2 linked regions of the Homo sapiens genome follow. The protein of the gene in region 2 interacts with the protein of the main gene of each other region in a biochemical or structural test. Each region holds a gene or a part of one and is shown on either strand. Other genes may lie near its edges.

Evidence for each region. The genes of interacting proteins can lie anywhere in the genome.
Region 1: the proteins of PAX8 (region 2) and NFIC form a complex in vitro, tested with the Homo sapiens proteins (one study listed by BioGRID).

What each region holds. Positions count from the first base shown.
Region 1 is NC_000019.10:3,432,558-3,439,583, reverse strand, and holds part of NFIC (nuclear factor 1 C-type), read right to left. Parts: intron 6,067-7,026; coding exon 5,992-6,066; intron 5,308-5,991; coding exon 5,184-5,307; intron 4,502-5,183; coding exon 4,377-4,501; intron 1-4,376.
Region 2 is NC_000002.12:113,233,899-113,240,924, forward strand, and holds part of PAX8 (paired box protein Pax-8), read right to left. Parts: intron 6,945-7,026; exon of another isoform or gene 5,191-6,944; intron 4,315-5,190; exon of another isoform or gene 4,192-4,314; intron 2,824-4,191; coding exon 2,703-2,823; exon of another isoform or gene 2,371-2,702; intron 1,685-2,370; coding exon 1,496-1,684; intron 1-1,495. UniProt on the Homo sapiens protein: Transcription factor for the thyroid-specific expression of the genes exclusively expressed in the thyroid cell type, maintaining the functional differentiation of such cells.

The sequences.
Region 1 (7,026 bases), on a different chromosome or scaffold from region 2:
TGCACCCTCCGCCTCCCAGGTTCAAGTGATTCTCCTGCCTCAGCCTCCCGAGTAGCTGGGATTACAGGTGCCCACCACCACACCCGGCTAATTTTGTGTTTTTAGTAATGATGGGGTTTCACCCTGTTGGCCAGGCTGGTCTCGAACTCCTGACCTCAGGTGATCCGCCTGCCTCGGCCTCCCAAAGTGCTGGGATTACAGGTGAGCCTTTTTTTTTTTTTTTTTTTTTTTTTTTTTTTTTTTTTTTTTTGAGACAGGGTCTTTCTCTGTTGCCCCGGATGGAGTGCAGTGGTATGATCATAGCTCAGGGCAGCTTTGACCTCCCGTCTTAAGCAATCCTCTCACCTCAGCCTCCCAAGGAGCTGGGACTACAGGTGTACACCACTATGTGATGCTATTTTTTTTTTTTTTTTAAGTAGAGATGGGGTCTTGCCATATTGCTAGGATTACAGTTGTAAGCCACTGCACCCGGCCAGCAACCTGATCGTATAGCAGAGGAAATTGAGGGGCAGAGAGGTTAAGGAACCTGCCAAATGTCACACAGCTGGAGAAGCAGAGAAGCCAGTTGCCCGAGCTCCTCACTGCTCTGTCAGCCTGATTCTCCTCCTCGGGGAGGTCCTCCCTTTTCTTCCAAGTTCTATCAGGGTCCTCTTGTTCCCCCTGACTGTCTTCTGTGCCTCCTCCTCTGGGCTGTAGTCACCTGGATAAAAACCCATCTCCCTCACTAGGCTGTTAGCCCCTGGAAGGTAGGGACAAGAGTGGGTTGGATCATCTCTGTGTCCCCAGGGCCTCAGGTAGGGCCAGCACACAGGAGGGCTTTACACTGAGGATGAAACCCTCAGGAGGAGGCCGGGTGCGGTGGCTCACGCCTGTAATCCCAGCACTTTGGGAGGCCGAGATGGGCGGATCACGAGGTCAGGAGATCGAGACCATCCTGGCTAACACGGTGAAACCCCGTCTCTACTGAAAATAGAAAAAATTAGCCGGGCGTGGTAGTGGGTGCCTGTAGTCCCAGCTACTCGGGAGGCTGAGGCAGGAGAATGGCGTGAACCCGGGAAGCGGAGCTTGCAGTGAGCTGAGATGGCGCCACTGCACTCCAGCCTGGGCGACAGAGCGAGACTCTGTCTCAAAAAGAAAAAAAAAAAAAAAAAAAAGAAACCCTCAGGAGGGAGTGAGTTTGCCATCCCCTGAGGTAATCAAGTGGAAGCTGCAGGAGCACAGACCTCCTCTGACATTCCCTGCTAGCTCTGCGATTCCCAATCACAGAGCAGAAGCTGGTGGGGGCTTCCTCTTTGTCCTCCCCCCATTGCTACCACCTCCTTCCCCAGTGGAAGGGGTTGCCAGTGAGCAGCCGGGCAGAAAAGTCAGACTGAGCTCCAGAGCTTAAAATGTTTTCTTTTTGAGTTTTCTCTGTTGAAAGCTAGATTCTTTATTTTCCACCTTTCTCCTCTCCTAATAAATAGACTTAAAGCTACAATTTTTCCTCTCAGGGTTGCTTTGGCTCATCGCAAAGGTGGTCTTTCACTTTAATTAGCGTGCAGTTTACATTCTGACAGCCTCATCAATTACAGAGTTAATGAGAAGTCACGGCTGGGTGCGGTGGCTCACACCTGTAATGCCAGCACTTTGGGAGGCTGAGATGGGCGGATCACTTGAGGTTGGCGGATCACTTGAGGTCAGGAGTTCAAGACCAGCCTGGCCAACATAGTAAAAACCGTCTCTACTAAAAATACAAAAATTAGCTGGTTGTGGTGGTGCCCGCCTGTAGTCCCAGCTACTCGGGAGGCTGAGGCAGGAGAATCACTTGAACCCAGGAGGTGGAGCCGAGATTGCACCACTGCACTCCAGCCTGGGTGATAAGAGCGAAACTCCGTCTCAAAAAAAAAACAAAAAACAAAAAACAAAAAAAACGAAACAGAAGTGACTTTTTTTTTCTTTTTTTTTTTTTGAGACATAGTCTCGTTCTGTTGCCCAGGCTGGCGTGCACTGGCGTGATCTCTCAAAACAAGCAAGACTCCATCTCAAAACAAAAACAACAAACAAACAAAAAAAGAACCTCATAAATACTGAGACAGGTCCCCTGAGGGATGGAGACCCTTTAGGAATGTTCCTGCTCTGGGAGCCCACACTGTGGAAGGGAGGGGCCTTGGCACCTGAAATGTCACAACTAGATGCGTCCGAGTGCCGGAAAGAGACAGGAATTTTTTTTTTTTTTTGAGACGGAGTCTCGCTCTGTCACCCAGGCTGGAGTGCAGTGGCGCCATCTCAGCTCACTGCAAGCTCCGCCTCCCGGGTTCATGCCATTCTCCTGCCTCAGCCTCCTGAGTAGCTGGGACTACAGGCACCCGCCGCCACGCCCGGCTATTTTTTTTGTATTTTTAGTAGAGACGGGGTTTCACTGTGTTAGCCGGGATGGTCTCGATCTCCTGACCTCGTGATCCGCCTGCCTCGGCCTCCCAAAGTGCTGGGATTACAGGCGTGAGCCACCGAGCCTGGTCAGAGACAGGAATGTTATAAAGACGTGGATGACAGTGACCTCCCGTTTCCCGGGTATGTCGCATGGGCCAGACGGTTGCTTCACGCACATCCTACCCTTCCTCCTCCTGTAGCTCCCAAAGAACATTATTCACATCACCCCCATTGTGGAGATGAAGAAACTGAGGCTTAGAGAAGTTAAGTGATGTGCCCCAGGTTACACAGCACACAGAGCTAGACACGGGCAGGGCTGGGATCTGAACCCAGGTCTCTCCAATGCCTGAATCTGACCTCTTAATCCTAATGTTATACTGCTTCTAAAAATCCTACAGGTGGCCGGGAGCAGTGGCTCACACCTGTCATCCCAGCACTTTGGGAGGCCGAGGTGGGTGGATCACCTGAGGTCAGGAGTTTGAGACCAGACTGGCCAACATGGTGAAACACTGTCTCTACTAAAAATATAAAGATTAGCCGGGTGTGGTGGTGGGTGCCTGTAATCCCAGCTACTTGGGAGGCTGAGGCAGGAGAATTGCTTGAACTCAGGAGGAAGGGTTGCAGTGAGCCAAGATCTCGCCACTGCACTCCAGCCTGGGTGACAGAGCAAGACTCCATCTCAAAAAACAAAAATTAAAAAAAAATAAGAGGGGCCCGGCATGGTGGCTCACACCTGGAATCCCAGCACTTTGGGAGGACGAGGCAGGAGGAAAGATCACACTTGAACTCAGGAGTTCAAGACCAGCTTAGGCAACATAGTGAGACCCCATCTCTACCAAAAAAAAAAAAAAAAAAAAAAAAAAAATTAACGGCGCATGGCAGTATGCACCTGCAGTCCGATACTTGGGAGGCTGAGGCAGGAGGATCACTTGAACCTGGGAGGTCGAGGCTGCAGTGAGCCAAGATTGCACCCCGGCACTCCAGCCTGGGCAGCAGACCGAGACTCCGTTTCAAAAACAAACAAACAAACAAACAAACAAAAACAGAGGCCGGGCGTGGTGGCTCACGCCTGTAATCCCAGAACTTTGGGAGGCCGAGGCGGGCGAATCACCTGAGGTCGGGAGTTTGAGACCAGCCTGACCAACATGGTGAAACCCCGTCTGTACTAAAAATAGAAAAAATTAGCCGGGCATGGTGGTGCATGCCTGTAATCCCAGTTACTTGGGAGGCTGAGGTAGGACAATTGCTTGAACCAGGGAGGTGGAGGCTGCAGTGAGCGGAGATCGCGCCATTGCACTCCAGCCTGGGCAACAAGAGCGAAACTCCATCTCAAAAAAAAGAAAGAAAGAAAGAAAGAAAGAAAGACACCCCAGAGAGGACCCTTCTGAAGACAGAAAAGCAAGAGGATAAAATCTTCCTAGAAAACGACGCCATGGGAATGGAGACCCTACAGAAAGGAGACGAGTCTCCTGCAGAACCAGAAGATCCCATGGAGATGGGAACCTGGTTAAAAAAAAAAGTAACCTCAAGAAGGACCCCAATGAGAAGGGATCCGGCATCTCAGGACCTTCTAGAGGGGAAGAGGACAAACAGGGTCCCTACAGACGAGGGATTCTATGACAGATCCCAGGAAGAGGCGCCCTGTTGATCAGAGTCACTACTGAGTCCATCCTGCAGCTCGGGGACCCCACAGAGATGTGGCATTCACGGCCGGAGGGCAGGAGAGTCAGGCAGGGGACAGTCTCTGCCCTCCTTCGCCGCAGCGGAACCAAAGAGATCCGAGAACGCGAACCCGGACCGTACTTCCAGCCAAGCGCAGCTCGGGACGACTACAATTCCCAGGAGGCCCCGCGGCTCCAGGCCGGCTTCCTGCCCCGCGGCGCCCGCGCAGTGGCTGCCGGAAGACGTAGTTCCCGCCACGGTGACTCAGACCGGAAGGCCGGCTCCGCCCCCGCCACCAGCCCTACCTCCTTCCATGTCCTCCGTCCAGTTGCGGCTGCTACTCGTGGGCGAGCTGGGCGAAGTGTAGTAATCGCCGCCAGGGCTCGTGTCCACGTCTTCCTCCATCGAGCCCGATTTGTGCCGCTTGCTCCTTATGGGCGAGGGAAGGGGAGAGGCTGGTTACCAGGGAGACGCGGGGCGGGGGGCGCGACGGCGGGCTTTGCTACTTCCGGTCCTTAAGTGAGCGGGGGCGAGGGAGGTAGTATCGCGAGACATCGCGGGAGCCGCGGGCGTTCAGCCCGTTCCCTACGAACGCCTGTTCCAACCTGTCCATTGCTTGGATGGGACACCCGGGCCAGAGGCAGGGAGGGTCTCAACACAGGTCGGACACCAAGCTAGCATGGTGGAGACCAAAACCCAGGCAGCCTGGCTAATCTCCTGGCCACCTGTAGTCCTCAGAACTGCCTGTTAGGGGTATGATCCCATTTTATGGATGGGGAAACTGGGGCACACACAGTGTGACCTGCTCGAGGTCACAAAGCATATCTCAGCAACAACCTGTGTCTGCATTCTTCTGGGTGGGGAGGGTCCTAAGGGCTGGCTGAGCCGGCAGGACTTGAGGCTGGGGGAGCCCACGGTGGGCTGTCAGGGCTAGGGGAAGAGGCACGTGGGGCTGGCTGGGTTTTGAAGGATGAGATGAGTAGGAGTTTCTCAGGCCAGGTGAATCGTGAAAAGAGGTATTCCAGGGAGAGGAATGAGTCAGCTCGGGCCAGAGGGGATGGGTTGATGAATGGGGTCATGAAATGCCCAGAGGTGGGGACCTGGGTACTTACCCACTGGAGGAGGTGCTGGGCAGCGTTCTTCTGAGGCCAGTGCTGGCTGGGTTCAGGTCGTATGCCAGGTGCCCCTGCAGCTCCCCCAGGGAGAAGTTGGGTCCTGTTCCAGTCACCACGGGTGCTGCAGAGGGTGACAGAGGAGAGTGAGGCAGGAAGCAGTGCCCAGTGCTGCGGTTTGCTTTAGAGAGGTAGGGAAAGCCACTGGGTGCAGTCCAAAGGGGGACCCCCTTCCCATATTGGCCCGGTTCCTAGGGTGGCTGAAACCAGTTTTATTCTATGGATCAGAGGACCAAGGCCATGGGGAGAGGCCAAGAGCACACTGTGAGGCAGAGGTGTAGCCAAAGCTGGAGGCCAGGCTCTGCTGATCTGGACAGGGAAGGTGTCAGTCAGGGCTAAAGAAGGACAGCGCCCAGGACTCGCTGGGGTGGGATTCAGACAGTGTGTGACGGAATGTGCTGGGTCCCCAGCAGGTCAGCAGAGAAAGCAAGGGGACAGGAGGGGCGGGGTCCTTTGGGGTCTCCTGGGACAGGACAGTGGAGGCCCCAGGGAGGAGGAGGGATGCTGGGGCAGAAGTTTCCTTAGTTGCCATCCAGCATTTAGATTCTGTTTCCTGGAGAGGTGGGAGGGAGCCCTGACCTTGGGCTCTGGGAAGGGCCTGGCCACCTCCCTTTCTAGGAACCTTGGCTTAGTGACACAGGGGGTTGTCTGGAAAGGACAAGGAGTAGGGTGAGGGGGGTGGGCTCCTTCCTCCCTGCGGCCCCCTCCCCTCTCCAAGACCCAGCTCAGGGCTGACGGGAACACTCACTCCGGGACACTTGGATGAGCTCAGTGACGCTGAACACGCCGGAGGTGACAAAGCTCTCCTGGAAGTCGGTCGTGTCTGGAACAGGAAGACAGCGGGGTCAGTAGGCTGAGCTGGGCCTGTTTCCCTTCCCCACACTCCAGGGCTGCCTGGACTCCTGGGGGCTGGCCCGAGCCTGGACGTTCCCCCTGTCCATCCTGTGCTGTGGGGGAATGACAGCTCCAGTCTGATGGGGAAGGCCCCGTGGGGGGTCCTTGTCCAGTGTGGGCCTTCACACAGCCTTCATCCGGGTTCCCCCATGCTGTGGAATGCTGCATTCAAGTGAACAGCAGGCCGGGCGCAGTGGCTCATGCCTGTAATCCCAGCACTGTGGGAGGCCGAGGCAGGAGGAACGCTTGAGCTCAGGACTTCAAGACCAGCCTGGGGAACACAGCGAGACCCCATCTCTACAAAAAGTGTTAAAATTAGCCAGGTGTTGTGGTCCGTGCCTGTAGTCCCAGCTACTCAGGAGGCTGAGGCTGGAGGATCACTTGAGCCTGGGAGGTGGAGGCCGCAATGAACCATTGTTGTGCCACTGCACTCCAGCCTGGGAAACAGGGCGACACCCTCTCTTAAAAAACGAGTGGAGCCGGGTGCGGTGGCTCACGTCTGTAATCCCAGCACTTTGGGAGGCCGAGGCGGGAGGATCACAGGTCAGGAGATGGAGACCATCCTGGCTAACACAGTGAAACCCTGTCTCCTAAAAATACAAAAATTAGCCGGGCGTGGTGGCAGGCGCCTGTAGTCCCAGCTACCTGGGAGGCTGAGGCAGGAGAATGGTGTGAACCCGAGAGGTGGAGCTTGCAGTGAGCCGAGATTGCGCCACTGCACTCCATCCAGCCTGGGCAACAGAGCAAGACTCCATCTCAAAAAAAAAAAAAAAAAAGAGCGGAAAGCGGAGGCCTGGGCTCACATCGGCTCCATCACCTGCCTCGGTGTGTGATCTGGGGCAGGTCACTTTCCCTCTCTCAGCCTCCAAGTTTCCCTAATTGCAAAAGT
Region 2 (7,026 bases):
CAAATTTGAAACCACTGGTCCAGATGGACTGTCTGACTCTGGGCTGCCTCTGTGACAGGTCTCACACACCCCACCCACGCACTGGTCTCTGCTCCAGCATTTCAAGGTCGTCGGGGTAGGAGGGTGTGGGAGGTGAAGAGGCATTTACTTCTGTCACTAAATACCCACACTCCTTGGAGACAGTGCCGCTATTAAAGAGATTCCTCCAATGCTGAACTGAGAGCTAGCTGGCTTCCTTCCCTGGTCCTGGGCCCCCACTGGGCCCACATCTAAAATAGTCCTATCCCTGTGGAAGCCCTTGAGGTATCTGAAGACCATATGGGTCTCTGCTTCCCACTTTCACTGCATCTCAGGCCCTCTCCAACCCAAGCCAAGCGCTTGACTCTCAGCCATTCCTCAGGCCCTGGCTGGATGAGCGAAGGTCCTTCTGCCAGGAGGAGCCAGCTCCCCTTGAGGTCTGACTCATGCAGTGCAGGCCCAGGCCTCAACCAGCTACAGATGGTGCTCCTGCCCAGAGACCTTGGCAGGGACCTTCTCCTCCCTGGGCCAGGTTCCTCATCAGCATAAGAGGTTTGATCTAGAGGCTCCCTCAGGTGCTTCCAGATTTACTTATTTTTATTTATTTGTTTTTTTCTTTTTTGAGATGGAGTCTTGCTCTGTCACCCAGGCTGGAGTGCCATGGCGCCACCTCAGCTCACTGCAACCTATGCCTCCTGGGTTCAAGCGATTCTCCTGCCTCGGCCTCCCCAGTAGCTGGGATTACAGGTGTCTGCCACCACACCCCCTAATTTTTTGAATTTTAGTAGAGATGGGGTTTCATCATCTTGGCCAGGCTGGTCTTGAACTCTTGACCTTGTGATCCACCTGCCTCGGCCTCCCAAACTGCTGGAATTACAGGGGTGAGCCACCTCGCCCGGTCGGTGCTTCCAGCTTTAAATATTTTGAGGCAGTTGAGGTTCCTGATGGGAGGTCCCCCACTCCTCTCAAGTTGTTGAATCACTGAATTTATCATGTTTAACAGATGTCTGACTGTCCTCCCGGTGATGCTGTTAAGCTAGGAATGAAGATAGCTGCATCATGGAAACACAACTGGGACTGACCCTTGGCCTTTTTAGAAATTTGATCCAGAAATGGGCTCCAAAAGCCAATTCCTTTTTCCCTCCAAAATGTTCATTTTTCCTTCTATCTATTTATGCATTTACCAAGGCCAAGTTGCTACGTTACAGCACCCGGCTCCCGGCCTTAGGGTTCCTGCTTTTCCATGGGGTCTTGGGGTGGTGCATCCCCGGCACCCCTACAGCATCCGCCCCTTCCGAGCATGTCTTCCCCGTCACAGAGAACTTCATGTTGGCGCCTCCAAAAGTTGCCGGAGGAATTAGGGAACAGGGTGGGGGTGGATGAGACTGAGGCCAGAGAGGGGGCTGGCGGTCTGCCCTGAGGACCCCCGTCCCACCCGCCGCCATAGCTGCATGGCCCCGGGACCTCCCTGTCGTACCTGAGAGGAGGGCCTGGCCCGTGAACTGCCCGTACACGGAGGCAGCATGGGGAAAGGCATTGAAGGGCGGGACCCCGGAGCCGACTTGCTGCAGATCCAAAAAGGCGGAGCTAGATAAAGAGGAAGGGGTGGAGCTAGAACTGGACACCTCGGGGGTTTCCTGCTTTATGGCGAAGGGTGAGTGAGGATCTGCCGGAGGGAGGGAGACAACAAGGAGAGAGGGGTGTGAGATGGCGGGGAGGGAACACGCACAAGCCAAGCCGTGGGATGTGGAGGGTGCGGGCGGGGCGCGGGGCAGGCTCAGCTGCCCTCAGAGTCTGGGCTGGGGAGAGCCGGGGCCCACGAGGCGTGGCAAGGCGGGGAGAGAGAAGCTAGACCTCCCTGCTGCGCTTCTGCAGCGAAAATGGAGAGACCCGGAAGGCGTGTGTGCGCCCGCCTCTCCCACAGGAGGGAGCGCGGAGACCCGGGAGCGGCCTAGGACCGGAGGCGCGACCCCTCGGCCCACCTTGAGGCCCGGCCTAGGACCGGAGGCGCGACCCCTGGGCCCACCTTGAGGCCCGGCCTAGGACTGGAGGCGCGACCCCTCGGCCCACCTTGCGGGAGCCGCCTAGGACCGGAGGCGCGACCCCTCGGCCCAGCTTGAGGCCCGGCCTAGGACCGGAGGCGCGACCCCTCGGCCCACCTTGCGGGAGCCGCCTAGGACCGGAGGCGCGACCCCTCGGCCCACCTTGAGGCCCGGCCTAGGACCGGAGGCGCGACCCCTGGGCCCACCTTGAGGCCCGGCCTAGGACTGGAGGCGCGACCCCTCGGCCCACCTTACGGGAGCCGCCTAGGGCCGGAGGCGCGACCCCTCGGCCCAGCTTGAGGCCCGGCCTAGGACCGGAGGCGCGACCCCTCGGCCCACCTTGAGGCCCGGCCTAGGACTGGAGGCGCGACCCCTCGGCCCACCTTGAGGCCCGGCCTAGGACCGGAGGCGCGACCCCTGGGCCCACCTTGAGGCCCGGCCTAGGACTGGAGGCGCGACCCCTCGGCCCACCTTGAGGCCCGGCCTAGGACCGGAGGCGCGACCCCTGGGCCCACCTGGCGGCCCGGCCGGCACAGCCCGCCTCTCCTCTCCAGGCCAGGGCCCCACACCTTCCGCCTGACAGCCAGCCAAGCTCTTCAGTCCCCCGCCCTCCACCTGCCAGGGAGGCTCCGGGCGTTGTACCTGCCACCACGGGGTAGGTCTGGTGAGTCGAGAGGTTGCGCCCCAGTGGCGTGTTGGAAGGGGTCAGGGTGGCCTTCCCGTCGTCCAGGGTGCTGTTGAGCAAGGGCAGCGGGTAGAGGCCCTGGGGAGCAAAGAGAAGTCAGCGCACAGAGACGATCCAACAAGCCGACCTTCCTGCAGACCCTGAGCCTGTGTCTTAGGACTTGGCAGCCCTCATCTCCCCAGGAGAGGTCCTCATCGCCCCCTTCTTCCTTTACGTTCTCAACTCCACTCGGCACGTTTCGTTCATGCTCATTGTCCTCCCGCATCCCTGGAATTCAAGGCCAGCTGGTAGCATGGGTGCCCAGACGTGGGATAGAGAGTCTCAGCCAGAGGACCACACCCTGGTTGGATGGCTGGTCGGCTTCCTGGTTTCACCACACTGTTGGGACCCACAGAATGCAGGACGGTGCCAAGGACTGGAGCAGTCTCCAACCGGACTGTTCAGGGTCCTTGCATCTGTTAATTTATTCTTCCCCAGATAGGAAACCCAGGCACAAAGGTTTAAGAAACTTGTCCCACTTCCAGATGGGCCAAAGATAGGATTCAGATTCGAGGGATCAGAATGTGTCTGCTCTCAACCACTGCCCTAAACTGGGTGACATAAGGACCACTTCTTACATTTGCAAAGAGCTTATATCAGAGCTTTGCCTCTGTTGTCCTAGTAGAGTCCCCCAGCAGCCCAGTGACATGGGTGAGTAATATTATGTCTGTGTTTTATATGTGGAGCCTGGAACTCAGGTAAATGGCCCAATTTTGTATAGTGAAACAGACTAAACCCGGGATTTTTCGGCTGTGGACCCAGGTGCTTTACCCACCACGTGGATTTCTTCTTTTCTCTCTCCACATCCAAACAAATAGAAGTGTGCAAGTTCGGCTTGAAAATGGTATTGAGAGTTGTTTTTGTTGGAAACACTCTTTGTCAAGTACCTGGGGGTCTTCATCAGTAAGACCTCATTTTAGATGCCTCCTGGCCTCCCCTTCCCAGGAGCACAGCTATGACCTTAGGTACTCCTTCCGAAAAGAACTTGTTTAACTAAAGGTAAGTGTACCTCATCCTCACCATGGCCTCCTTCCACTGGGGAAGCAGATAGCGCAGAAAAAAGAACACACCCATTCCCCACATACCTTCACACTCGTCACATACCTGCTACGTGAGATGTGCAAAGCTGAATTCAGGGAATGCTCAGTAGTTACATAACAGTGCCACTAAAGGCAATTGTTTTCAGTGATTTCCATCGAGCTGGGTTCTGCAAAGATCCACAGCACTTTCCGGTTGCATGCTGGGCACTTTTGGAAGCTGCAGTCAATTCTGGAGGCCACCAGGGCACCATTAGCACATAGCAGCAATTATTGACTAAATGGTGCTCTGGTTCCATGCCTTCCAAGGGGGCCCACTTAGAGGCAGGGTGGAGTTGCTTAGGGCCTTTTTTTTTTTTTTTTTTTGTAGACGGAGTTTTGCTCTTGTTGCCCAAGCTGGAGTGCAATGGTGCGATCTTCGCTTACTGCAACCTCTGCTTCCTGGGTTCAAGTGATTCCCCTGCCTCAGCCTCCCGAGTAGCAGGGATTACAGGTGCGTGCTACCATGCCAGGCTAATTTTTTGTATCTTTAGTAGAGACAGGAGTTTCACCATGTTGGCCAGGCTAGTCTTAAACTCCTGACCTCATGATCTGCCTGGCTTGACCTCCCAAAGTGTTGGGATTACAGGCATGAGCCGTTGCACCTGGCCAGGGTGTGTCTTATTGAAATTGAACAAAATACCTAATTTCTAGAGCGTATAAGAGAAGTTTAAAATGCTTTATGGATGTGTTGTTTTGACAGCAAAATATCTACTCAGAATCCTATAGCTATTTCAAAATCCAAGTAACTTAGAAAAAAAGGAAAAAGAAAACCTATATAGTCAAATCTTTTGGTGATTTTGTATTCAATGACTGAAACTTCCCAGTGATTATTGGGCTTTTTAGCTGGAATTGAACTTGAATCGGGGCAGAGCAGCACAATGCTTCAGAACTTCAGCGACTCTGAGCCCTGGTTCTGCAATGACCTGCCAAGTAGCTTTAGTCTACTTGACTGCTCTGAACCTTAATTTTCTCACCTGTATGGGAATCATAGACTCTACTTTATGAGGCTGACGTAAGCATTACATGAAATTTTGTATACTTATACATAATGTGCTTAGCACCGAATACTTGGTGACAGCAGATGCCCAATGAGAGTTATCACAGATATTATTTCAGAATCGTGAAGAGTCAGAAGCCACCAAATTCTTGATTTCTGTCAATAAACTGATATTCATATTCTGTTGATTTTTTTTGATGCATTTGTAAAATAGGGAAACAAGAGCTGTATGACTTCTAGCTATGTCTGGTCATGAAATAGCAACCAGGAATAAGGCCACATGATGTTTCTGATGAACACTTCCCCCTGCCCTTTTTTTTTTTTTTTCAGATGGAGCCTCGCTCTGTCACCCAGGCTGGAGTGCAGTGGCACAATCTCGGGTCACTGCAACCTCCGCCCCCCAGCTTCAAGCGATTCTCCTGTCTCAGCCTCCCGAGTAGCTAGGATTACAGGTGCACGCCACCAGGCCTGGCTAATTTTTATATTTTTAGTAGAGATGGGATTTTGCCTTGTTGGCCAGGCTGGTCTCAAACTCCTGACCTCAGGTGACCCATCCACCTTGGCCTCCCAAAGTGCTGGGACTACAGGTGTGAGCCACCATGCCTGGTCCCCCACTTGTTGATTTTGCAGAAAAGATAGCTGTGTTACAACCTGTCCTAAGGTCAGGTATGAATACTTGTGCTTCTTTCTTGGCTCCCCAAGCCAGAGGGCATTCCTATGCCCAGGTGAGAGAGCACGGAGTGTTACTTTGGCAGCACAGTCAGTTACCAGAGGTAGGAAAAGCAAAGGCCAGGCAGGACATGAGGGGCCCTTGCACTGGCTGGTTCTCCCTGCCTTCACCACCCTCCAGGTGAATGACTGGGTGAATAATGATTGACTGAGGAGGTAATGAATAATTTATGGACACTGCTGGACCTCAGTCTCCTCATCTGAAAGATGAGTGGTTGGAGAAGTTTAATGGTTTTCAAATGCTTTTTTTTTCAGTCTTCAAATAAGTGTTTACGTAGAAGCACCATATCTGAAACAGGTGACAGTGGACCAGTCTGAATGAAATGAGGGTTGGCAGGCCTGAGCTCCAAAACCTTCTGATTGCCCAAGCCCTCCTTGTCTTGCTTGGATTATCTCCACACAAATGGAGAAACTGGACAAGGTGGTCATGGAGGTCCCTGAAAGCTCAAAGACTTTCTCATTCCAGGATTCCCCATGTTCATATGCCAGCATGGCATGGGGGTGCTCTGTAGTCAAGCAGGGTCCTTTGGGGGGCTTAGGGATGGAGCCAGGAAATGGCTCTGGGACTCAGCGGGTGTCCAGAGTCTCATCAGCAGGGTTTCTTTACTTTCACTGAGTGGCTGGTGCCTGCACACTGAGTTTTGCAGGCTTACTCTCACAGAGTGAGCTTCCTGCAGGCCCCCCACTGCAACCCCTTTCCTTCCTGGAGCTGTGTGCTGACTGGTGCGTGAGCACCCCAGGCCCTCTCCCCATGCTGCTGATGGTCAGCTTTCTCTGCACGCTCGTGGTTGCCACAGTCAACGCTGATAAAATTGCTGATGCAGATTGCCTGCCCAGCTGCGAGTGCTGGCACGGGACCAGCAGCCCAGACGGTCACTGGAAGTGGTTGGGCTGATTATTGGCATCATCTCCATTGTCCTACTCGGTTCTTAAAGGCATATGGACTTGCCTCACTCCTACAGCAAATGACGGCATGGGCAAAGAGGGGCAACAGACCCACCCTGAAGACACTCCTCATCTGGTTGACTTGGCAGGGTTAAGGGAAAAAGATGTGATGACTAGGAGCTGAGAGCTTAGTGGTTCTGCCAGAGCTGCAGAGTCTTTGTTGGCCTCAGGGTGGGACCTCTCACATCTCTGTCAGCTTTTCACGGACACCAACCTGTTATGATTCATTTCACCTGTCCTGAGCACTAGCAAGAAAAATTCGCTGTAGCTTGTGATGTATTATTCTGGATTTCTCAACTCATTCATTTGTTCATTCATTCACTATACCATTACTGTCTATTATAAGGGGGGCACAATGGTAGGTGCTGGGAATAAAAACGATGTTTAACGTTTCATGAGGCTTCCCTGTCCTTAAGGAGTCCGCGTGTCTTTGTACCTGTCTGTCTGCTAGATTATTAAGTGACACTGTGAGAAGCTACTGAGAGCAGCATG